2 linked regions of the Homo sapiens genome follow. The protein of the gene in region 2 interacts with the protein of the main gene of each other region in a pairwise test. Each region holds a gene or a part of one and is shown on either strand. Other genes may lie near its edges. The genes, in order: ZFYVE19 and VPS4B.

Region 1 (12,397 bases), on a different chromosome or scaffold from region 2:
CATGGCTGCCCCTGACTCCTCACCCACTGCTTTGCTCTACCACCTTCCTTGTGGCTCTGGGCTGGGCTCAGTAGATCTCTGGGCGCAAATACCCCCAGCACCTGACTCAGCCCTGCCAGGGAGGCCTTGACCAAGGGATACCAGTGAGCAGCTGCTCCCCAGCCTTCACCTCTCTCGGGGTCCTGTCCCCGCAGCATGGCTAGTCGCTTGGCCAGGGCCAGAATCCGTTCCTGCCTCGTGTTCTCCTCCCGCAACTCAAGTGCTGCCTCAGCCAGCAGTCTGCTCTTCTCCTCCTCCAAGGACCAGTTGGCCTGCCTCTTGGAATTAGTGCTCCCTGGGCCACCCTGGTTGAGATCATTCTGGAGAGAGGCAGCTGGAAGGGGTAATGCCATCAGCAAGGCCGAGACATCCCAGTATCTCTCCTCAGAAGCCAATGAGCCCATTTCTCAACCTTTTCTTTTCTTTTTCTTTAATAATTTTTTCTTTCTTTCTTTCTTTCTTTCTTTCTTTCTTTTTTTTTTTTTTTGAGATGGAGTCTCGCTCTGTCACCCAGGCCGGAGTGCAGTGGTGCAATCTCAGCTCACTGCAACCTCTGCCTCCTGGATTCAAGCGATTCTCCTGCCTCAGCCTCCTGAGTAACTGGGATTACAGGCACGTGACACCATGCCCGGCTAATTTTTGTATTTTTAGTAGAGACGGGGTTTCAACATGTTGGTCAGGCTGGTCTCCAACTCCTGACCTCGTGATCCACCCGCCTCAGCCTCCCAAAGTGCTGGGATTACAGGCGTGAGCCATCATGCCCAGCTTTTCTCAACCCTTTCTAATCACAGATCATCAGCTTTTTGCTCAGCACTAGCGCCTATGGTTTCTATCACAAATAAAATTAGTATTCCTCCATTTTTCCAAATGTAAAAAACTAATAATTTTACCCATGTCTTTTCCAACCACATCCATCCCCATCTACCTGATATTTTAACATTCTGCCCTAAGGGTGGGCGTCCTATGGTTTGAGAATCACTGCCCTAAAGGATCAAGACATGATAAGGCCCAGGTTCAGCCGATCTCTTTGCCTTTCAGGGCAGGAATTAGCATCTCCTGGGATTAGCACAGAGAGGGCAATGAAGGAAGCTAAGAGCTTGTATATCACTGGGCAGGAAGAATTTTACCAGATTAGGTGTGGCTCTGACACAGTCACCTTCAGTTTAGTGTTTCAGAGCAAGAGGTTTAAAATCACAGCTTTAGGTTTAAGTCTCATCTCTGCAGCTTAATAGCTGTGTGACCTTGGTCAAGTTCCTCAAGCTCACCAGGCCTGTTTCCTCATTTATAAAAAAGAATAGTATGTACCTTATAAGATTTTTTTTTTAAACAGAGTCTTGCTATGTTGCCCAGGCAGGTCTTAAATTCCCCAGCTCAAGCTATCCTCCCTCCTGCCTCTGCCTCCTTAAGTGCTTAGGATTACAGGCGTGAGCCACACCTGGCCTCATAAGATTATTGAGGATATTCAATGAGATTGTGCCTCTAAAGCAGGACTTCTCAATCTTAGTTCTCTTGACACTTTGGACCGGGTAATTCTTCATCATGATGTGCTGTCCTGTGACATAGTAGATTTAGTAGCATCCCTGGCTTCTATCCTGTAGGTGCCAGTAATATCCTCTGGGTTGTGACAACCAAAAAGTCTCTAAATGTTGCCACAAGTAGCCTGGGGGCAAAATCATCCTTTGTTGAAAACCACTGCTCTGAAGCCTTCAAACAGCACTGTCCAACAGAATGTTCTATGATGATGGAAACATTCCATATCATGTTCTATATCTGTGCTGTCCAAGATGGTAGCCATGAAGCCCATATGGCTACTGAGCATTGAGATGTGGCTGGTTTTACTAAATAGCTTCTTCCTCCTTATCAACATCATGATTGCAGAGAATATTCACTGAGTACTCACTATGAGTCAGGTATGTTCCCAAGCACTTATTGGATTATCTCGTTTACTCCTCCTGATTTCCCTGTGAGGTAGGTTTTTCCATACATACCTTCATTTTACACATGAGGAAAGTGAGACTTAGGTCAAGTAACTTGTCCAGCATCACACAGCTAATACGTGGTAGAAATGGGAATCACTGTCTGATTCTAAAGCCCGTGCACTTAAACACTAGGCTTACACTGGCTCCCTTTGGAGTAAGCACTCAATGAATGGTAACTCTTATAACGTTGATCACTCTCCGATTTATATTCATCTCCCAGAGGGTGGACAGCAGAGCCTCTCCAGTCTGGGGAAAGAGGTAGGGCAGATTCCTAGGGAGCCAAGTGGAGGGGTTACCTGGGCCTCCTCCTTTCCAGCTTTCATCGATAGCCACCTCAGCTGCCAGCTGCGTTAGCAGATCCTGTGTCTGCTGGGCTTGGGTCCTGGTGTCCGGTGTGTGATGTGCCTGCACAGACGAGGAAACCTCAGTGGAGAGCAGGGGTAGCCCAGAAGCAGTCTAGGTCAGGGATGGATGCTAAGTAGTTCTCAAAGCCCAGGGAAAGGAGAGGGATCCAGGGCCCACATAATCAAGTAGGTCTGGCCGTCCCCAACAGGACTGAGGGGCCACTTTTTCCTGCCCTACCCTATCGTGCTGTTTGTCCCTGGTCCCCGGGTCTGGTAGCAGGCCTGAGGATCAGGAGGTAGGGGTGGGAGGCTTTGCCAACTCCTGCAAAGTACATAAAGTACAAAGGTTGGTGCAAAAGTAACTGAGGTTTTTGCAATTAAAAGTAATGACAAAAACCACAATTACTTTTGTATCACCCCAATACCTGTATCTGGGCTTCTGCTGGGTCCTCCCGCTAGCACCCCCGCTTCTCTCCTAAGCCATAACACTCACCGGCTGGGGGGTTTGAGAAGGTAGAACTCTGCCCTGCAACGCTGCAAGTCGTGCCTCCATTTCCTGGGTGGAAGGGATGGAACCCTGACGTTCATCCTTTAGGGCAGCCAGCCGTGCCTCTATCTCTGCCTGTGAGGGGACTAACTCTGCAATTGGCATGGGGGGAGCCTTGTAAGGGCCAGAGGCATCTCAGTCCCAGAAGCCCTGGACTGTGTCCTCTAGGCAACCCCATCTGCCCCTGCTCACTGGGCTTGTTCTCCTGGCGGAGTCGTGCTAGGCGCTCAGCAATCATCTGGTCTTGTCGTGTCAGTCCCTGGCTCTGGGAAGTGCTGGGCTTTTGCTTGGCTTCCAAGGCTGCCACACGCCTGGCAGGATATGAGATAGAGGCTCTTGAAGAAGGCAGAGGGGAAGAGTGAAGGCACCCACTCACTGTTTCCCATTCAAATCAAATCATTTCTGGGCACTTAGGGAGGCCTCCAATGGGCAATCTGCTGTGCCCCTCACTCATGTCACCCTGCAGCCCAACCTGGCTGACCAGCCAGACGGTCCAGCTGAAAGGACAAGCTCTACCAAGTGCCTGTCCTGGAGAGAGGGCTGAAGAGCTGCTTTACCAGCCCAAGAGGGCAGTCAGGAGCCAGAGAGGAGAGAATTCTCCTGATTCTGTGCTCATTTTATCTAGAAGATGGGGGCAGGGTCTTTCCCTATGGCTCCCTTATCCTTTCCCCAATGCTCTTTGTCTTTTTCTCTTCAGCACTTACTTCTTATAGTTCTGAGGTGGTGACCACTTGGAGGCATTGGCAGAAGACCCTCTACAGAGAAGAAATCTAGTGTTATAAATCCTGCCATCCCACCAGGCAGTGCCCCCCACTCCAAACACTTCCTCGGCTGACTCTCGCGACAGAGTACAAAGCTGTGAGGGCTGGCCAGATGCCCACTGCCATACTTGGCTGAACTTTCACCCATGCCTGCCTCTTACCTGGTCAGGACCTCATGGCATTGCTTGCAGACTTTCTGTTGGGTGTTCCCAGTCCGAGGCACTGCTGCACTGAAGCTTAGGCAGCCTGAACAGAAGGCCCTGCCACAATTCTTACAGCCGTACTACAAGAAACATGAAGCGGGAGATCCCCCTCTCACCCGCCCCTGCAGGCTGCTCCCAGGGACTCTCCAAGCACACACAGAGAGAAGTCACTGAAGTTATGACCAGCTGCTGGGAGGAAGAAGAGGAGTGGGGCCCCTAAGGCCTAGGGATGGTGAGTAAAGCAATTCCTCGGTTTCCAGTACCTTATTCAAGCCAAATGAAGGTTTATACAAAATTCCCATGCTTTCTACCCTGTCTTCAATTCCCTGACCCAGGGATGTAGAAGACAGATAGATAAAGCCCAGTATTTCAGGCCACTGACTCTTCCACAAAGGAGAATCAGAGAGACAGGGCAGAGCCGATGCCTCCTCTGCTCTTGCAGAGATGGAGGGAGGCTTGGCTCAGGATGGGCTAACAATAGCCTCCATTTATTAAGCACTTACTATGTGCCAGGCACTAAACCCAGTACTTAACATTCATCATGTGATTTATTCCTTACAATTTACACACATTATTTTACTTAATCTTGATGCCAACCGTGATTATCCTTATTTTGAGAGGGCCAGAGAGGTTACATAACTTATCCAAACCAAGGTCACCGCCTCAATAAGACAGCAGAGCTCAGATTTGAACGCTGACTCCAAAATCCAGGTTGGTGAATGCTGCACGGTCCTGCCTTCCTGCGTGACACTAATTTACTCCATCTAGTTCCCATCATCTCCTGGTCAGAATCCCTGGCCACAACTGAGGCAGAGGGAACCTGCAGTTTACCAGAGGAATCTGGCAGGTCTGTGATAGGGACAGGACAGTCAGCCTTCACCATGGTGCCCCGGAAGCAGGAGGAAGTGTGGTAATCTAACTCCAGCGACCTGGAGAAGGGCAGGCTGCGGGATGGGGAAGATTTCAGAGCAGAGGGAGTAACGGGCTTGGTGTGATGGACACCGCGCTTCGGAGGAGCAGGGTGGAGAGAAGAAAACCGCCAGATGCTACACTGGGCCGACAGAAAAGAGTAGCTTTGCAAAAACGACGGCAGCGCGCTTTACAGTTTATAGGGAACTCTCACCTAAAGCACTTCAGTGGACCCTCACATAAACCCTGAAAGCGAGAGAATGTTAGCCCCATTTTACAGAAATGGAAACTGAGGATCAATGACTTCATCAAAACCACACAGCTGGAAAGGAGCCGTAAGACCAAGTCTTTGGACGTTAAGTCCCGCGCTTTTCCCTCCTCTCCTCCCTGGCCCTGCAGCCCTCGGGGAGGGAAGACTCGCCTCCTTCTTGAAGAGGGTGAACTTGACAGCGCAGCCGTAGCACCTACTCTCCATGGTGGCTCCCAGCACCGCAGGGTCTGCAGAGCTGAGATCACGCCGGCCAAGTCCTGGGCCCCTTGGACCCTCACCCCAGCTCCGCCCTTCCCTTCCCTGCCCTGCCCCGCCCCACACGCCCACTGGCACTGTCCCGCCGCGACCTAGAGCAGGGAATCCGGACGCTCTCCTGCAGCCAGCGTACGGCAGCGGCGGCAACGGGGGCTGCTGGGAGTCGTAGTTCATTCACGACTGCCGGCCTCCCTCAGAGTCAGTCAAGCCTGACCCAGAACACAATTCCCAGAGGGCTAGGCGCCGCTCGGAGCCTGCAGTCCTCACGCGCGCTTAGACTCTTGGGAGTTGTAGTACGAATCCGTCAGGCCGGAACCATGGCAGTGACCAAGGAGCTCTTACAGATGGACCTGTACGCGCTGCTAGGCATTGAGGAGAAGGCAGCGGACAAAGAGGTGAGAACGGTGGCGAGGAAGGCTGATCTTGAGAGGTCTGGCGGTCCTTCCTGTCCTAGCGCCTCGGCCACTGCTGGCATCCGCTCTCCAGGTTCATTCGGGTCCTGGGCGGGGAGCGAGGGTCGGCGCTATGCCCTCCGCAGGCGGGCTCCCAGACATTTCCTGGACGGTCCGAGGGCCTCAAGAGGAAGCGGGGTACAGAGGGCTCTTCGCGCCGGGTGGCTGTGCTCTCCCCGTGGCCCCTGTCTCCTAGAGGCCGCGGGGCGAGGCAGCAAGGAACGCTAGCCTCCTCTGCGCCTGCGCAGTCTCGGCCTCCGTTTCCGCTTCTGCCTTGACTGTGACAAGAGGTGCCTCATTTCAGTCTCTTCTGCAGGCTGATTTAATTCTTCCACTAAGAGCCTAGAACGAAAGAAAAGTAAGATCTCAAAGCCTCTCCACTCCCTTTTCATGCCCCCTTGCCAATGTGACCGATGACCCTGCTGTCTCTATTTTCTTTTCCACTCAAGCCCATTGACTCTTTTCAAGTAGCTGATGCCCTTCTCAGCATGTGCTAGTTAGTGGGCTAAAAGCAGGAGGATCAGAAGGTTAAGGCAGATGGTATAGAGGTCCATGCTACCTTAGGTGGTGATAAAGATGCCAGGGAGTGAAACACTGATCAAGCTGGATTTAGGATTTCTTTTATCTCCCCCTGGATCATGGTGGTAGTTTTAACAATATACGAAGGAGAGGCGTTCATCAAATGAAAATTAGTGCCCAACTGAGCCGAGATCGCGCCACTGCACTCCATCCTGGGCGACAGAGCAAGACTCTTTCTCAAAAAAAGAAAGAAAGAAAGAAAATTAGTGTCTACTAGGCCGGGCGCGGTGGCTCACGCCTGTAATCTCAGCACTTTGGGAGGCCGAGGCGGGCGGATCATGTGGTCAGAAGTTCGAGACCAGCCTGACCAATATGCTGAAACCCCTTCTCTACTAAAAATACAAAAATTAGCCGGGCGTGGTGGCACACACCTGTAGTCCCAGCTACTTGGGAGGCTGAGGCAGGAGAATCACTGGAACCCGGGAGGCGGAGGTTGCAGTGAGCTGAGATTGCACCACTGCACTCCAGTCTGGGCGACAGAGCGAGACTGTCTCAAAAAAAAAAAAAAAAAAGGAAAAAAAAATAGTGCCCACTAATGTCCCAGTACTTCTGGGCTGCCCTGCTCATGGGGTGAGTGAGCTTTTGAGAAGAGGAAGCTCTGGGGCAGAAAATCAGAGAGACCCAGAGGGCCCTTGAGAAATGCTGTCAACCTGCACAAATCTGTCCCCTGCAGCCGCAGCTGAAATCAGAAATGGCCATGGGATGTCTATGAAGCATCAAAAGCATCTGCTCCACCTCTCTCGTGTTTCAATATTTTAGGATTAATAATTCCTAACATCTGTATAATGCTTACTATGTCCTAGACAGTATTTTTTTTTTCTGGATAGTATTCTAAGTGCTCTATGTTTACAAATTATTATTTTTTAAATTCTTTATTATTATTATTTTTTATTATTGTTTTTGAGACGGAGTCTCGCTCTGTGGCCCAGGCTGGAGTGCAGTGGCGCGATCTCGGCTTACTGCAACCTCCGCCTCTCGGGTTCACGCCATTCTCCTGCCTGAGCCTCTCCAAGTAGCTGGGACTACAGGCGCCTGCCACCATGCCCGGCTAATAATTTTTATTTTTAGTAGAGACGGGGTTTCACCGTGGTCTCGATCTCCTGACCTCGTGATCTGCCCACCTCAGCCTCCCAAAGTGCTGGGATTACAAGCGTGAGCCACCGTGCCCGGCCTATTATTATTTTTTGAGACGGAGTCTCGCTCTGTCGCCCAGGCTGGAGTGCAGTGGCGCAATCTCAGCTTACTGCAACTTCTGCCTCCCAGGTTCAAGCGATTCTCCTGCCTCAGCCTCCGGAGTAGCTGGGACTACAGGCATGTACCACCACGCCCGGCTAATTTTTTTTTTTTTTTTTTTTTTGAGACAGAGTATCACTCTTTGGCCCAGGCTGGAGTGCAGTGGCATGATCTCGGCTCACTGCAACCTCCGCCTTCCTGTTTCAAGTGATTCTCCTGCCTCAGCCTCCCAAGTAGCTGGGATTACAGGCACCCGCCACCACGCCCAGCTAATTTTTGTATTTTTAGTAGAGACGGGGTCTCACCGTGTTGGCCAGGCCAGTCTTGGATTCCTGACCTCGTGATCTTCCCACCTCGGCCTCCCAAAGTGCTGGGATTACAGGTGTGAGCCACTATGCCCTGCCTGCAAATTATTTAATTAGTACTTTATTAATAGTGAGAAACTATTTGAGACATTTCACAAAAGATCCAAGTGGGAAATCTGGAGGGTTTTTTTTTGAGACGGAGTCTCACTCTCTTGCCTAGGCTGGAGTGCAGTGGTGCAACCTTGGCTCACTGCAACCTCTGCCCCCCAGGTTCAGGGAATTCTCCTGCCTCAGCCTCCTGAGCAGCTGGGATTACAGGCATGTGCCACCACACCCAGCTAATTTTTGTGTTTTTATCAGAGACAGGGTTTCACCATGTTGGTCAGGCTGGTCTTGAACTCCTGACCTCAAGTGATCTGCCGGCCTTGGCCTCCCAAAGTGCTGGGATTACAGGCGTGAGCCACCGCGCCCGGCTGAAATCTAGAGTTTCTAACCCTGAAGTTGAGAACTCCTGAGGAAGTCAGTTGGAAGTCATTCTCTATTAATTAGAGAAGTTACATAATCAGATTTTATTTTTTTTTTATTTTTATGTCTATTTTTTGAGAAAAGATCTCACTGTCATTCAGGCTGGAATGCAGTGGCACAATCACAGCTCACTGCAGCCTCGACTTCCTGGGCTCAAGTGATCCCACCTCAGCCTCTCATGTAGTTGGGACTGCAGGTGTGCATCATCATGCCTGGCTAATTTGTTTTGTGTTTGTTTTTGCTTTTTTTTTTTTTCCAGAGACGGGGTCCAGCTATATTGCCCAGGCTGGTGTCGAACTCCTGGGTTCAAGCTATCCTCCTGCCTGGTCTCCCAGAGTGCTGGGATTGCAGGCATGAGCCACTGTGCCCTGCCCATAATTGGATTTTAAAGAAAGTATTTGACTGAGTGTGATGGCTCACACCTGCAATCCCAGCACTTTGGGAGGCCAAGGTGGAAGGAACGCTTGAGGCCAGGAGTTTGAGACCAGCCTGGGAAACGTAGTGAGAGCCTGTCTCTCTCTCTATATATAAAAAAAAAAGCTGGGCAGGGTGTTACGCACCTGTAGTCCCCGCTACATGGGAGGCTGAGGTGGGAGGATCACTTGAGCCTGGGAAGTTTCAGTGAGCTATGATTTTGCCACTGTATTCCAGCCTGGATGACAGGGTGAGACCCTGCCACTCTTAAAAAAGAAAAGAAAATTCAACACTAGTGTGCATAATGAAAATGGGTGGGGGTGGGAGGAATGGAAGAGCTGCCACTAGGGGGTCAGATGGGGCTGGTGTCTAGGCAAGAGACCAAGGTCTGAGCTGGGCAGTGGTGGCTGGGATCCAGTTCTAACTCAGATGAGATAAGGGATAGGTGTGAAGCCACTCTATAAAGGGTAACAGGTGCTGCTCCTGCCTTTAATGGGGGGGCAAGATTCACGCATACAAGGGAGACATGGTGAGTTCCTTAAGAGGGGTACAAAGTGCTGTGGATGTTCAGTGTAGGCTGAGATTGCTATTAGTTTGAGAGAAGGAATAAAGGCAGGAGAGAAGGTATTTGGGGCCTTGAAGAATGGGCAGAGTTTGGACATGTGGAGATGGAGGCAGGGCATTCCAAGAAAGCAAATGTATATATTAATACATACAGTCTATTTTGGAGCATAAGTAGGTGGCACCCTCAAAGAGGCCTTACCTATTTTTCTTTTCATAGCAGCCATTCTCCTTTCTAGCACTTACTCCCATTTACACTTTGGATACACTGGCTAGCTTCATGGCAACACACTTTTTGGTAGAAAGCAAGAAAAACCTAGGCCCTGGTGTCCCCGCACCATGGTTTAATACCTGTCATAGACAACCTAGGTTGCTGCCATAGGGCAACCTAGAGGACAAACAAATATTTAAAGTGTATACAAGGAAGAACTCCTAAACTGGTTGTCCAAATAGCCTAGGAGTTCTCAATTTGCCCTCTACAGAAAGGCTCCAGGAACTGGGTGAAGGAACCTCTGAAAATCATGCGTGATTTTTTTTTTTTTTGTATTTATTCTGGAGGAGAGGAGGACTTTTTTTTTCTTTTTTTTTTTTTTGACCCAGGGTCTCTCTGTGTTACCCACGCTGGAGTCAGTGGCATGATTACTGCTCACTGCAAACTCTGCCTCCTGGGCTCAAGCAATCCTCCCACCTCAGCCTCAAAAGTAGCTGGGACCACAGGTGTGCACCGCCATGCCTGGCTAATTTTTGTATTTTTGTAGAGATCGGGTTCCACCATGTTGGCCAGGTTGGTCTTGAACTCCTGGGTTCAAGCAGTCCTCCCGCCTTGGCCTCTGAAAAGTGTTTGGGTTATAGGCATGAGCTACCACGCCTGGCCAGAGGAGGGAATTTTAATCCAAAAGTCAAAGAAGCCCTAATGGAGGCCAAGCTCCCTGTGTTACTGATGGCGAAACTGCAGCTCGGAGAAGGTGGTTAGTGGCAGAATTGGGACTAGAACCCTGATGCCCTGATGCCCTGATGCCCTGATGTCCAGCTCAGGCCTCTGCTCCTTCTGCTAAGGCTCCCTGGCCCTGTCCAGCGCGGTTCAGTGGTAGTGATGAGCACCACCACCAAATTTAACTTGTGTTCAGACTACTTCTCTGAATCTCAAATCTGTGTATCTATCTGCCTGTTTGATCCCTCCATGTGGATGTTTCACAGCGGTCTAAATCTTACTACATCCAAAAATTGGCCAGGCGCAGTGGCTCATGTCTGTAATCCCAGCACTTCGAGAGGCCCAGGCAGGCAGATCACCTGAGGTCAGGAGTTTTAGACAGCCTGGCCAACAGGGTGAAATCCTATCTCTACTAAAAATATAAAAACTAGCCAGACGCGGTGGCACGTGCCTGTAGTCCCAGCTACTGGGAGGCTGAGGCAGGAGAATCGCTTGAACCTGGGAGGCGGAGGTTGCAGTGAGCTGAGATCAAGCCACTGCACTCCAGCCTGGGTGACGGAGCTAGAATCTGTCTCGAAAAAAAAAAAAAAAAAAATTGAACTCTTTCAATTCTCTCTCCAAACCTGCTCCTTCCTTGGATTTCCCCATCTTGTGGCACCACCATCCATCCATTCAAGCTAGGAACCTGGAGTCATTCTCAGTACCTCCCTATCCTCTCACCCCTGCCATCTAGAACATCACCGGGTCCTGATGAGTCAGCCTCCCAAATAATCCCCAAACCTGTTCACCCTCTCTGTCTCCACCACTACTGCTCCAGCCCAGGCCCCCATCCACTCAGCTGAATGTTTAGAGGAGCCTGCCAACTTTTTTCTGCTTTCAGCCTATTCCATTCTGATCTATTGAGCCTCTCCAATTCTCCTCACAGAAAATGGAATGATCTTGCTACTCCCTGAAAACCCTATTTAGCACTTCTAATAAAATACTCAATAGAATTTCTTTTCTTTTCTTTTTTTTTTTTTTTTTTTTGAGACGGAGTCTCGCTCTGTCACCCAGGCTGGAGTGCAGTGGCTGCAAGCTCCGCCTCCCAGGTTCACGCCATTCTCCCGTCTCAGCCTCCTGAGTAGCTGGGACTACAGGCGCCCGCCACCACGCCCGGCTAATTTTTTGTATTTTTAGTAGAGACGGGGTTTCACCATTCACAGGATGGTCTTGATCTCCTGACCTCGTGATCCGCCCACCTCGGCCTCCCAAAGTGCTGGGATTGCAGGCGTGAGCCACCGCACCCAGCCAATACTCAACAATTTCTTAGCTCATTCATACATTTTCCTCTGCCAGGAATGCTCTTCCTCCCCTTCTGCTAATCTGGGTTGCTTTTACTTGTCCTTCAGAACTCAGTCGAAATGGCATCCTCAGAGAAGCCTTGCCTTATATTCTATTTCATGGCAGCTGGTTTTTCTTTTTTCTAGCACTTATTTCAGTTTGCAATTATGTATTTATCTGTGTGATTATTTGTCTCATGCCTTAATCCCCTCTGCACTCCTACTTCTGAGGACCAGATCTGATTCATGCTCTTCTGTAGCAGCCCCTTACCTGGTGACTGGCACATAGTAGGTTCTCAATAAGTATTTGTTGAATGAATGAAGTAGTAGCTAAAGAGACCACTGCAACGACTTTACTTGAGAATCAGGAGACCAAGGGCAGTCACTGCGTCTCTCAGGACCTGACTTTCCCCAAATGTAAAATGAAGGAGTAGGGCAAACTACAGTTTGAGGGGCCAAATGGCCCATGACCTTTTTTTTTTTTTTTTTGAGACGGAGTCTCGCTGTCGCCCAGGCTGGAGCATGGTGGCGCAATCTCGGCTCACTATAACCTCTGCCTCCCAGGTTCAAGCAATTCTCTGCTTCAGTCTCCGGAGTAGCCGAGATTACAGGCTCCTGCCACCACGCCTGGCTAATTTTTATATTTTTAGTGGAGATGTGGTTTCACTCTCTTGGCCTGGCTGGTCTTGAACTCCTGACCAAAGTGCTGGGATTACAGGCGTGAGCCACCGTGCCCAGCTGACCTTTTTTTTTTTTAATGGCTTATGTGC
Region 2 (12,358 bases):
TTTGATAGCAATGAGTGATCATTTGAATATATTAAATTCTTTTTATTAGGAATGACAGTGATGGGGAAGGAGAATCTGATGATCCTGAAAAAAAGAAACTACAGAATCAACTTCAAGGTTGCTTTAGATTTCATTTTTAAATTTACTATCCTATTAAAAAGACTCAAAGTGAATTGTCTATTTGAATTGTTTTTGTTCTCCCTCTATATTTAAATGAAGTTTAAGAACTGGCTTTGGTTCCCAATAGTCATGTGCTGGCTTTGTTTAGAGTGTTTTCTTAGGGTTTGCCCTCTAGGATCATGGTTTGGTCTTTTTTATGTAATAGTTTTGTTGGCTTCACATCTGCCTTTAAAAGGCTCTCAGTCAACTTGCTCTTTCTTTTTGTTTATTTGCCGCCTTTTAGAGAAGGTAACACTTATACTATTAGCACACTGCAAAATTTGATGGTATTAAAATTTACTACTGTGGGAGAAGTTAGGACTTACACGTGGCTTTTATTGCCGTTGCTGTAGCTCACTTATTGATGGTTTATTTTGTTTCTTAACTGCTCTTCATCTGCTTTTCAGTGTTCCTGTTTACATTTAATTGTTTAAGCTTTCTGTGTTTACCATCCACACCTGTAAAGCCCTTTCATTCTGTTCTACTATAGCACAGTGGCATAACAGAGGGGACATAGGTTTTTGGCTCCATTCAGATCTTGATTCTGTTCAAGGGTCTGCCACTTAGAACTTTCTAATTGTGGGCAAGTGACTGAATCTCTCAGAACCAGCGTCCCCCATCTCTAAAATAGAAATGAGCAATAGCTTCCTTTCAGGGCTTTTAAGATTAATGACAGTGTAAAAACTACCTCATATATCTGACGAAGTCTAGGGACTCAATAAATGGTAGCACTGTTTATCTAAAAAGGCATCTATTTGTTGGCTGGCTTTGTTAATCACTGAGATTTGATTATTCTTCGAAATAAATTATCTAACAATTTTTCAGATTGAATTTTTTGCTCACCCATTGGTAGTATGTATTTTGTTCATTTGAATCTTACCAAATAGAATGCATAACTGGGAAGGATTTCCATTTTATAGGTTCAGCCTTGGTTACTGAATAGTGAAAATACTTACCTGAGCCAAACTTTTAGCCTTGCTATACTAGTGTCTTCGTTTTGGTAGTATTTTTGTCTTGCCTACCCTACTGGGATGTCTAGGAAAACACTGTAAGGATAATGTGTTGACAACAGACCAGGTAATGAATAGAGAACATCTTTAGATGCCAAGAACTTCAGTGGTAGATATAGTCCAAGGGCAAAATCTTGAGTTTACACTCAAGCGTAGTGGTGTCCCCACCACCTGAAACTACTGGCACACACTGCGCACTCAGTTGGCATTTATTGGGTAACCCAGTGGGTCTGTGCCAAGTGGCCTTATTCCAGTTGTAAAGCAAGACACTTTTTTTGTCTGCTCTATTGGATTTGGTTTTGTTTCCCTCTCCCTACCCTGCCCCAGGTAAAAATCAGTTGCATATCTTTAATTTTCGAAAAGATACATTTTTTTTTTCTTTTTTGTTTTTTTGAGACAAGGGTGTCGCTGTGTTGCCCAGGCTGGAGTGCAGTGGCGCAATCACGGCTTACTGCAGCCTCGAACTCCTGGGTTCCAGGGATTCTCCTGCCTCAGCCTCCTGAGTAGCTGGGAACACAGGCACACACCACCATGCCCGGCTAAGTTTTTTTTTTTGTTTGTTTGTTTGTTTGTTTGTTTGTTTTTGTAGAGGTGGGGTTTGGCCATGTTGCCCAGGCTGCTCTCGAACTCCTGAGCTCAAGTGATTTGCCCACTTCAGCCTCCCAAAGAGCTGGGATTACAATTGTGAGCCACCGCACTTGGCCGATACAACCAGTTTTTAATAGGGATTTCTCTAAATTCCCTATCACTTACAATAAAGGCCAGAAATGTAAAACAAACAAATAAAAGAGAAAAAAAACCAAATACTTAAAACATTTAAATGAGGAAATGTATTTGAAATTTCAGGATGAAATAGAATATGAAAGGAGTCCTAGCCTTTTATATTTGAATATCCTTTTTTTTCTACTTTTTAATGGTTTGCTGCTGGATTTCATACTATTGTATCTTTTTTGAATTTTTCCTTGTTTTTTGAACAGTATTTTAAATCTTTTACTTCTGTTTTAGATTATGATATTAAGTGTATATTTGTTAAAATTAAAAATCGGTTTGTGATTTGAGTTTTCTGTTAGCTAATTTTATTCAGTGAATTTTTTGTGATTAAGTAATATACTAGTAAATAGTATAGTCAAAGACCGGATAAATTTATATCATTGGAAGTACATTCCATTTGTTAGCATTTTTCATAATCCCATCCCCCCTTTTTAATTTTGCAAACCATGTCTAGTATGAGATTGTTTATCAGTAAACATTCCAAAGTCACCTTTTAACTTAGAAGTATTATATATGAAAACAAATCATGACACATTTTTAAAATTTATAGCAGAAATCTTGAGTCAGACGGTATACATATATAAAATAAAGTTTATTTTTGTTTAACTGACATGAAATCCTAGGATTACTAATCTTAATGAAACATAAAAAAGACGAAATGAATTTACTTTTTTCTTACTTTATAGTAGTCTGAACTTTTGGAATACAAAATGCTTATGGTTTCATGTAATTTTAATCTAGTAGCTAAAGATTTTCATAATTTAGGGAAGTAAGTTGCTAGTAACTAGTCTTAGAGTAACAGATTATCTTTCCTAACAAGAAGAAACAATCAGTAGCAGTGATTTCATAAAGTAATAGATTGTATAAGTGGTGGTGTTCTGTTACACTTAAAACAACTAACTACATGTCATCTTAGAACAGGCTGCTTCATAGTTTATAGTGGAACAGTTTCCATATTCTAGAAAATTAGAAAAGCTTTTGATAAAAGAGAACTAGAAAATTTGTCAGTAGGCTATATTAAAAGACATCCTTCTTGGACTCTTACTGCAATAATTGCTTTGGCTTTTGAATATACTGCATTCAGAAGCTAAATCTTCCCTGTAAGTTAACTTTGTTAATTAACAAAAGTTGTAAATAGATCTATTTAGCAGCCAAATAGAAACTTGGGCAAATCTTAGGAAAGTATTGCAAATCTGCAGGGGTATCTTTTCTCGGTTTCCCATCATCTGCTTCCATTCCTTCCTTTCCTCTCTCCTTTTCCTTCTCCCTTCTGTCTGTCTGCCTATCTTGAGTTAAATTTGTTAAGCATATTTTTTTTTTCAGTGGTTGAGGAGAGGATTAGATCACCTTTTCTTTTGGTTAACAGGAGAAATGGTAGAACAAGTACTTTTGATACTCCAAAATCAATGTATTCAAATATAACCACCTTATGGAACGTTTGGTGCTTTTCCAAACACTCTAATATTCATTATGTCATTTGATTTTCGCACCAACCTATCTAAGTAGTTTGGGCAGATGGTATTATTTTCATTTCACAAGTGAGGAAGCTGAAACAGAAGGGTAAAGTAACATGCCCCAGGTTGTCTAGTCATCCACCTGGTTCCTAGTCCTATTGACTACTCCCTAACACCTGCTTCCTGCTCACGCTATTTCAAAAAGGTTGTTAGTACATAAAACTTTCCCAATTTTATAATGCGTTTCTTTAACATCATTATTTCATGTTGTCTTCTAACTTTGGTGAAATAGTCTTTCTTAATTTAAAGATAACGTAATTTTTTGCAGGTGCCATTGTTATAGAACGACCAAATGTGAAATGGAGTGACGTTGCTGGACTTGAAGGAGCCAAAGAAGCACTGAAAGAGGCTGTGATACTGCCTATTAAATTTCCTCATCTTTTTACAGGTGACATAACTTTTAAATAATTTTATTTCATGAGTTTGTAAAAGTTCATTGATGACTGAGGTGAAGCATTGTCATTCTTGTCACTAATGAATTATCTTAAATAAATTGTGACTGTTAAAAGGTGGTGATATATCTTTATACAAGATGTTTTATTTCTTATACATATCCATATTTGCAGTGTATATATATTGCAAAACAACCTAAATGTCAACCAGTAGGGTAATTCACCAACATGCAGTGGAATACTATGCACTCAGTAAAATAGAGTGTACATCTACATTAATAAATTGAAATCTGCATTGTATTTTATTGAAGAATGTCCACATCTATTGCAAAGATCAAAAAGCAGTTATAAACTGAATAGTATGATTCCATGTTTGCTAAATGTGTATGCTGAGAAGTAAGTATAGTTAGATTCACATAGAAATATTAATATATGCCTAGGGGATAAGATTATAGGAGATTTTTACTTTTGACTTTCATCTGAATTTTTGCAATGGTTATGATTTTTAAAGAGTATTTCTTAAAAAGAGGAGTAAGAATCACTTAACAGTTTCAGAGGAAGTGCATAACCTCTAGTAGCAAAAGGACATTTCATTATCACTGTGAAGAGAATATTGCTGACCTACCATCTGGGGAAACTTACAAGTTCTAGTTCCAGCAGTAAGTGATATGTCTGTGCTAAACCATTCCTTTATATTATCCTTCTTGTGACTGATAGCCTTGACTGTAATATGGCCACACCCACAGTCTGACAGTCAGAGGTTTTTCCTTTTGCAAACATGTTGGTTTATGTCAACAGCAAATCTGCAATGTTGGCCTCAGACTGAAGAGTCCAGACAGTCGTATCGTATAGAGCAGTGATGAAGAGCAAAAAGCCTGTAGGCCACGCACTGTCCGCCTAGCTTCAAGGTGCAGTTTACTACCCAACTTCAGGAGTATGAAACTTAACAGCATAAAAGTTGACATCATAATCCTATAAAAGCACAAAAATATGGTTGAACTCATTTTATGGTATATTACTTATACCACTTTTTCTCAAACATGAGTCATTGATGTATCATCTTCATGAATTTTTCCATGTATGTGTACCATTACTAATTTTTAATATTTTTCTTTGCTTATTTTTTAGAACAACATTTTTACTAGAGTATAGCATAAATATACAGAGACATACAGGAGCCCCTGGGTGTTGGGCTTCCTTAATTGTCACAAAGCAAGCATGCCAGTGTCATCAACCAGATCCAGAAATAACAGCATTGCCAGGGACCTGGCAGGAGCCTTCTGCCTCATTCCTCCCGAGAGGTCATCTCTCTCTCTCGACTTCTAACGCCAGAGATTATTTTGCCTGTATTTGAACTTTAAATCATCTCACATATTTTTACTTAGTAACGTTATTGAAAAGACTGCTTTGTGCCTTTATAAGTGGAAAAAAAAGTGTTTTTCCAATACACATTAAAAAATTATTTAAAGTATATACCACCTAAAAGTACTTCATGTTATACCAGTGGTATATGTACCATACTCAGACACTGACTTGTAAATGTATACATGTAAAATAGGAAAATGAAATTCAAGTAACAGTTGCTTTCATAACAGTTAAGTGAAACAGTGTTATTCATCTGCATATCATTCTTTTGCAGATACTGTGTACACATCCATAGTTTGCACCTAGCAGTTTTTTTTGTTTTGTTTTGTTTTGTTTCTTTTTTTGAGACAGAGTTTCACTCTTGTCACCCAGGCTGGAATGCAATGGCGTGGTCTCGTTTCACTGCAACCTCCACCTCCCGAGTTCAAGCAATTCTCCTGCCTCAGCCTCCCGAGTATTTGGGATTACAGGCATCTGCCACCACACCCAGCTAATTTTTGTATTTTTACTAGAGTCAGGGTTTCACCATGTTGGCCACAGTTGTCCCGAGCTCCTGACCTCAGGTGATCCGCCCATCTCAGCCTCTCAAAGTGCTGGGATTACATACATGAGCCACCATGCCCAGCCATAGTTTTTTAAATGTATGTTTGATAGTTTACTGCCAGCTGTAACCCACCTGTTTTATTTTAGGCAGGATTATAATTGCTCATTAGCAAAATTGAGGCTCGAAGAGTTGATGTATTCACTGGTTATATTTTGGCAAAACTAGGATTTAAAGTAGTATCACCTTTTTGTTACCCAACCATGAAAGTCTGCTACCTAGCTGGAGGCTGAGGTGGGCAGATCACCTGAGGTCAGAAGATCGAGACCAGCCTGACCAACATGGTAAAACCCCGTCTCTACTAAAATACAAAAACTAGCCAGGCGTAATGGCGGGCACCTATAATCTCAGCTACCTGGGAGGCTGAGGCGGGAGAATTGCTTGAAACCAGGAGGCAGAGGTTGCAGTGAGCCGAGATCGCACCACTGCCCTCCAGCCTGGGCAACAAGAGTGAGACTCTGTCTCAAAAAAAATAAAATAAAAGAAAGTCTGCTACCTATAACACTAACCTGTGCTTTCCTGTGGAATCAAGAATTCAGCAGAAACTCACAAGTCATCCAAACTTTGTTAGGTTCACTTTTCCAAAGAGCATAAATATTCAAAGAAAATCTCTTCCAGCTGCCCATTTTTTATGGATATAATTTTTGTACAATATTCTGGTATCAAGCAGTGTACACAGTAGATGATCAGAAAGTACCTTTTAACTGAACTCTTTTCCCCTACTAGACTCCACGCAGGGCAGAAATCCTTTTGCCTGTGCACATGTTACGGTTTTGATACATATTGGTTGAATGAATGAGCAAACAAATGTACTTCCTGTTAGAAGGCTTATGTTATGCAAGTCTCTTTTTGATAAAGTAGTCTCTAGAAGAAACAAAATATATTTAAGACATACCTTAGATTGATTTATTTTTAAAATATTGTTTTGATCCTTAGAGGTTTAGAGTGAAAATCTTTCCAGAGTATTCCTCAGTATAGATGATACAATTAAGTGTTAAAATTCTCATGACATTTTTCTAAATCTAAATTTTAGGCAAGAGAACACCTTGGAGGGGAATCCTATTATTTGGGCCGCCTGGAACAGGAAAGTCCTACTTAGCCAAAGCTGTAGCAACAGAAGCCAACAACTCAACATTTTTTTCAATATCTTCCTCTGATCTTGTTTCTAAGTGGCTAGGTGAAAGTGAAAAGTAAGTAGTAAATCAATTTTTTAAAGTTTTTTCTTTGCCTGTAATTACTGTATCACTCCTTAATAGATTTCTTACATCACTTATAGATATTCAGAGAAGTCATGTAATACAGGTACTCACTTCTCTGTCAAATCAGTCTCTAATCTAGAATTTCTTTTGTGGGAAAAGATAGCATATATCTACAACCTAGTGAATCATAAAGTGAATTATCCAGTTGTAGCATTCTTATTTTCTGTACCTGAAACATGATTAGGCTTTTTAATCTACAGAGTTCTTGTAATATTGATATATTACTTTGTTTTAATCTTTTACTATTTTTTAGAGACTTAAAAGTTTTCATTTATTTTTAGACTGGTTAAGAATTTATTCCAACTTGCCAGAGAGAACAAGCCCTCCATTATCTTCATTGATGAAATTGATTCTCTCTGTGGTTCAAGAAGTGAAAATGAAAGTGAAGCCGCACGTAGAATTAAGACGGAGTTCCTAGTGCAAATGCAAGGTAGTGTTACTAATTTTTTTTTTCTTTTTGAGACGGAGTCTCACTCTGTCGCCCAGGCTGGAGTGCAGTGGCGCGATCTCAGCTCACTACAACCTCCACCTCCCAGGTTCAAGCAATTCTCATGCCTCAGCCTCCTGAGTAGCTGGGATTACAGGCGCGCACCACCATGCCCGGCTAATTTAATGTTACTGATTTTTAAAGTCGTTTTTGTTTATTTTATAACAATTTTTATAACAGTAATGAAAAATTCAAGCAGAATTTCTCCATTCTAACAAACTGTTTCATTTTGCCATGTTTCATTCCAATTGTCTTCCATATGCATACATAATTTTTACTCAATTGTAATTATCTTGTAGGACTCACTGACATAAATAGAAAAGAGATTTAATGTATTCATTTATAATGTACCAGGAACAACTTCAGTAAAAGTAATATGTAGACTTCGAATGAAATTTTTCAAGAAATATTTTGAAACGAATGTTAATAGTATTTTCCACAATCTGGGAGATTTGATTCATATATTTGCATCATATTGCATCATAGTGTATTTGGATCATATTGCCGTAAGGTGATATTTGATTAAATACAGTTCTTTTCCAAAGACAGACTCTCAAGATGAAGCACTTTAATGGTAAAGCACCACATTTCTTAACAGAATATATGGAAGAAGTTTAAAGAACACCAAAATGACAAATTAATTAAAGCATTACCTATTTTAATGCAGGGGTTGGTGTAGACAATGATGGAATTTTGGTTCTGGGAGCTACAAATATACCCTGGGTTCTGGATTCTGCCATTAGGCGAAGGTAGGATAATATAGTAAATATCTTATTTCTCACTGCAGATGTAACAAGTAGATGATAATTCTCTTTTTGTCTTGTCAGGAAGCATTCTAACAACTTTTCAAAAGATTTGTAATGTGCTCTAACCCTGTTGCTCCCCTGCCTTGAGTGGGAGAAGGGTGGTCATTTGCTTGTTTGTTTCCCTAGTTTATCAAATATACAAGATTTCCACACACTTCTGTCTTTCATATTAGAAAATATATTACCTAATGCTTACCTTTCATTCTGATTAAGTTTGGTGGGCACTGATGCTTCAAAAATTTATAAACATAGTTTGACAATTCAGTAAAAACCATTTATATAAAATTTTAGCAAAATGGCAATTCTATAAGTCAAAATAAGATAACCAGGTAAGATTTTTTTTTTTTTTTTGAGTCGGAGTCTCACTCTGTTGCCAGGCTGGAGTGCGGTGGTGCGATCTCGGCTCACTGCATCCTCCACCTCCCGGGTTCAAGTGATTCTCCTGCCTCAGCCTCCCAAGTAGCTGGGACTACAGGTATGCACCACCACGCCCAGCTAATTTGTATATTTTTAGTAGAGACGAGATTTCATCATGTGGCCAGGATGGTCTCGATCTCTTGACCTCATGATCCACCCGCCTCAGCCTCCGAGAGTGCTGGAATTACAGATGTGAGCCACCGTGCCCAGCCAAGATTTTTTTTTTTTTTAGTAAAAACTATATGTCAGGCCGGGTGTGGTGGCTCATGCCTGTAATCCCAGCACTTTGGGAAACCAAGGTAGGCAGATTGCCTGAGCTCAGGAGTTCAAAACCACCCTGGGCAACGTGGTGAAACCCTGTCTCTACTAAAATCCAAAAAAATTACCTGGCCATGGTGGCGCACACCTGTCTGTAGTCCCAGCTACTCGGGAAGCTGAGGTGGGAGAATCGCTTGAGCCCAGGAGGCGGAGGTTGCAGTGAGCCAAGATTGTGCCACTGCACTCCAGCTTGGGCAACAGAGTGAGACTCCATCTCAAAAAAAAATATATATATATATATATATGTGTGTGTGTGTGTATATATGTATATGTGTATATGTATATATGTATACACACACACATCTATCTATCTAATTTTTAAGTTGAAAATGAAACTTCAGTTCTAGGAAAGGTATACGGACTCTTCACTTTTCACTCTTCACAGTTCTGTATTACATTCATTTATTTTGTATGGTAAAAATTAGCACTTCAGTTTTTGCCACTTTTATCCCATTCACTTGATGATTTGCGCCAGCATTCTAGCTTACCATCCAGTACCAAGAAAGGAAATGTGCAGGGTATTTTTGAAAAATTGCCTTATTCTGCACCCATCTCTAGAGGCAACGGAAACTTTAAATTCTTTTCATTGTCACAGAGAGTTACCTGGAGAAAAAACAGTCTGCTCAGACCACTTAAATTATCCCTCATCGTTGCTTCTCTGTCTCCAAATACCGAAATTCTAAGAAAGCAAGCAAAATTATTGTTAATGAAACATAGTGTTTATTCTTTATAATATAGGATTGTTCTGGATGTATTCATTAAAGTGGACATTTTGTGTAATATATATCCTATAAGATTGTGAGGTAATTCTGTTTTGAATGTAGAGAATTACTGTGTCATCTCTACTCCTGTTTTATATTGTTAATCATTAGTCCCTTGATCAAGAGTTCAGAGTACAATTTTGTGGGAAACTGTAACCCTGTAGGACCTCTTTTTATTTCATGAATTCCAGACATAGGAACACTGTGGCCAAAATAACCCAAAAATGCACGAAAGATTCAGCCACTTCAAACTGGCTCCCAGGCTATTTTGATTTTATTTGTTTGTTTTTAATGTGTTCTGGATATTATCCCTTTAACCTAAATATATATGTTTAACCTTGGCACATACAGGCCCACTTAACTTAGTATCTGTTTCTTCTTGGAAATATCCTAATTTTCAATTAAATATATTCTTGATGTAATTTCTCTTTTAAGATTTGAGAAACGAATTTATATTCCCTTGCCGGAACCCCATGCCCGAGCAGCAATGTTTAAACTGCACCTAGGGACCACTCAGAACAGTCTCACGGAAGCAGACTTTCGGGAACTTGGGAGGAAAACAGATGGTTATTCAGGGGCAGATATAAGTATCATTGTACGTGATGCCCTTATGCAGCCTGTTAGGAAAGTACAGTCAGCTACTCATTTTAAAAAGGTAAGTCATTTTTATCTATCCTTTCCTATCTTTTTTTTTTTTTTTTGAGACAGTCTCACTCTGTTGCCCAGGCTGGAGTGCAGTGGCACTATCTGGGCTTGCTGCAACCTCCGCCTCCCGGGTTCAAGCAATTCTCATGCCTTAGCCTCCTGAGTAGCTGGAATTACAGGCGTGTGCCACCACGCCTGGCTAATTTTTTGTATTTTTAGTAGAGACAGGATTTCACCATGTTGGCCAGGCTGGTCTCGAACTCCTGACTCCAGGTGATCCACCCACCTCGGCCTCCCAAAGGCGTGAGCCACTGCGCCTGGCCCTTTTCCTGTATTTTTAAAATCAAGTTTCAAGACCGTCATTGGTTTGTCTTCAAAGAATTTGGGAGGATTTCAGTGTTGTATAATAATACCATAAGTGGGTTTACATAATAGACATATTTCTGTGTCACTGAAACAAGTTCTTTAATAAAGTTTATTTATTGGCCATTTTTGGCTGGGTGCAGTGCCCCATACCTGTAATCCCAGCACTTTAGGAGGCCGAGGTGGGCAGATCTCTTGAGCTCAGGAGAGACCAGCCTCAGGCAACATGGCAAAACCCCATCTCTGTAAAAAATACAAAAATTAGCTGGATGTGGTGGCACACTCCTGTAGTCCCAGCTACTTGGGAGGCTGAAGTGGGAGAATCTCTTGAGCCCAGGAGGTGGAGGTTGCAGTGAGCCGAGATTGCACCAGTGTACTCCAGCCTGGGTGACACAGTGAGACCCTGTCTTAAAAAAAGAAAAGGCCTTATTAATCATCCTAATGTGTTTTAAATTTTCCTATGAAATGATTTTTGAAGTATTTGTGTATTATTTTGATATAAGTATAGAAACTTAAATGTACAGATGTAAGGCTGCTTCTGACACATCTAGAATATTTTTGAGTAGAATCTGGTGCATTTATACCTCATAAAGTAAAAATAATAATAGCTAATATCTTTTAAATATTCACATGCCTGGCACTGTGTTCTGTCTTTTATCTTACTATTTCATTTGGTCTTCACAAAAATCAGCAAGAGAGGTACATGTAGCCAGCCACCTAATGGTGGTTAGTCTTGGACGTAGGTGCTAACACAGTAGCTAGAGTGGGACAGACATGTGATTTGCCTGGAGGTGAGGTGTGTTTCCAAATCTGAAATCTCAGCCATTCTGCTATCCTGCCCCTCCTGTGTTCTGTTTTGTCTGCAAGAACAAGTTAAGCATCTGTGGCTGAGATAAAGTTTTATAAGAAGGCTGTGGTCTTGAGATACCCAGTTTGAGTAACAATGAACTAGGTAATCTGGACCAACCCTTTTGCTGTGAACAACAGTATCCAGTATTACTCATGAACATACATGTGAAAAACTATTAGCAAACCTAATCTCATAATGTATGTCAAGACTAATATGACTAAGTCACATACGTATATTTATCATGTACCATAATAAGATTTTTTTAAGTTAACAAGCTTGAATTAAAATCTGAATTTGAAGCCTGGCACCATTTACTTGTTATACCTTTTTGAGCAAATTCTATTACTTCTTTAAAGCTCATTTTTATCATTTCTAAAATGGGGATGTGATAATGCTATTTTGAAGTCCTTTCCAATAATGAAGTGATATAATACTCATAAAACACCAGTCGTGGTACTTCAGATGCGTAGGGAATGTTACTCATCCACCCTTCTTCAGCCATTTCATTACTGAAGTACTGTTAAGTTTATGCCACAGCCATTATGTTTTTTCTTAAATTCTCTTTGCCATTTAGAAACTATAAATGCATAGGAACTCAGTCCTTTCCTACTGAGAGTTTGTCACTCAATTCTGCATATTA

Evidence for each region.
Region 1: the proteins of VPS4B (region 2) and ZFYVE19 interact in binary tests that used the Homo sapiens proteins (3 or more experiments, as listed by UniProt).

What each region holds. Positions count from the first base shown.
Region 1 is NC_000015.10:40,800,675-40,813,071, reverse strand, and holds the start of ZFYVE19 (abscission/NoCut checkpoint regulator), read right to left. Parts: upstream 5,984-12,397; 5' UTR 5,784-5,983; coding exon of another isoform or gene 5,626-5,783; 5' UTR 5,483-5,625; coding exon 5,204-5,482; intron 4,818-5,203; coding exon of another isoform or gene 4,694-4,817; intron 3,954-4,693; coding exon 3,832-3,953; intron 3,665-3,831; coding exon 3,614-3,664; intron 3,221-3,613; coding exon 3,102-3,220; intron 3,002-3,101; coding exon 2,856-3,001; intron 2,685-2,855; coding exon of another isoform or gene 2,602-2,684; exon of another isoform or gene 2,601-2,601; intron 2,424-2,600; coding exon 2,315-2,423; intron 374-2,314; coding exon 170-373; intron 1-169. Other genes in the region: DNAJC17 (dnaJ homolog subfamily C member 17), read left to right, coding at 5,626-5,703. UniProt on the Homo sapiens protein: Key regulator of abscission step in cytokinesis: part of the cytokinesis checkpoint, a process required to delay abscission to prevent both premature resolution of intercellular chromosome bridges and accumulation of DNA damage.
Region 2 is NC_000018.10:63,395,191-63,407,548, reverse strand, and holds part of VPS4B (vacuolar protein sorting-associated protein 4B), read left to right. Parts: intron 1-49; coding exon 50-117; intron 118-2,513; exon of another isoform or gene 2,514-3,722; coding exon 3,723-3,842; exon of another isoform or gene 3,843-4,818; intron 4,819-6,509; exon of another isoform or gene 6,510-6,702; intron 6,703-6,845; coding exon 6,846-7,002; intron 7,003-7,352; coding exon 7,353-7,501; intron 7,502-8,225; coding exon 8,226-8,307; intron 8,308-10,295; coding exon 10,296-10,515; intron 10,516-12,358.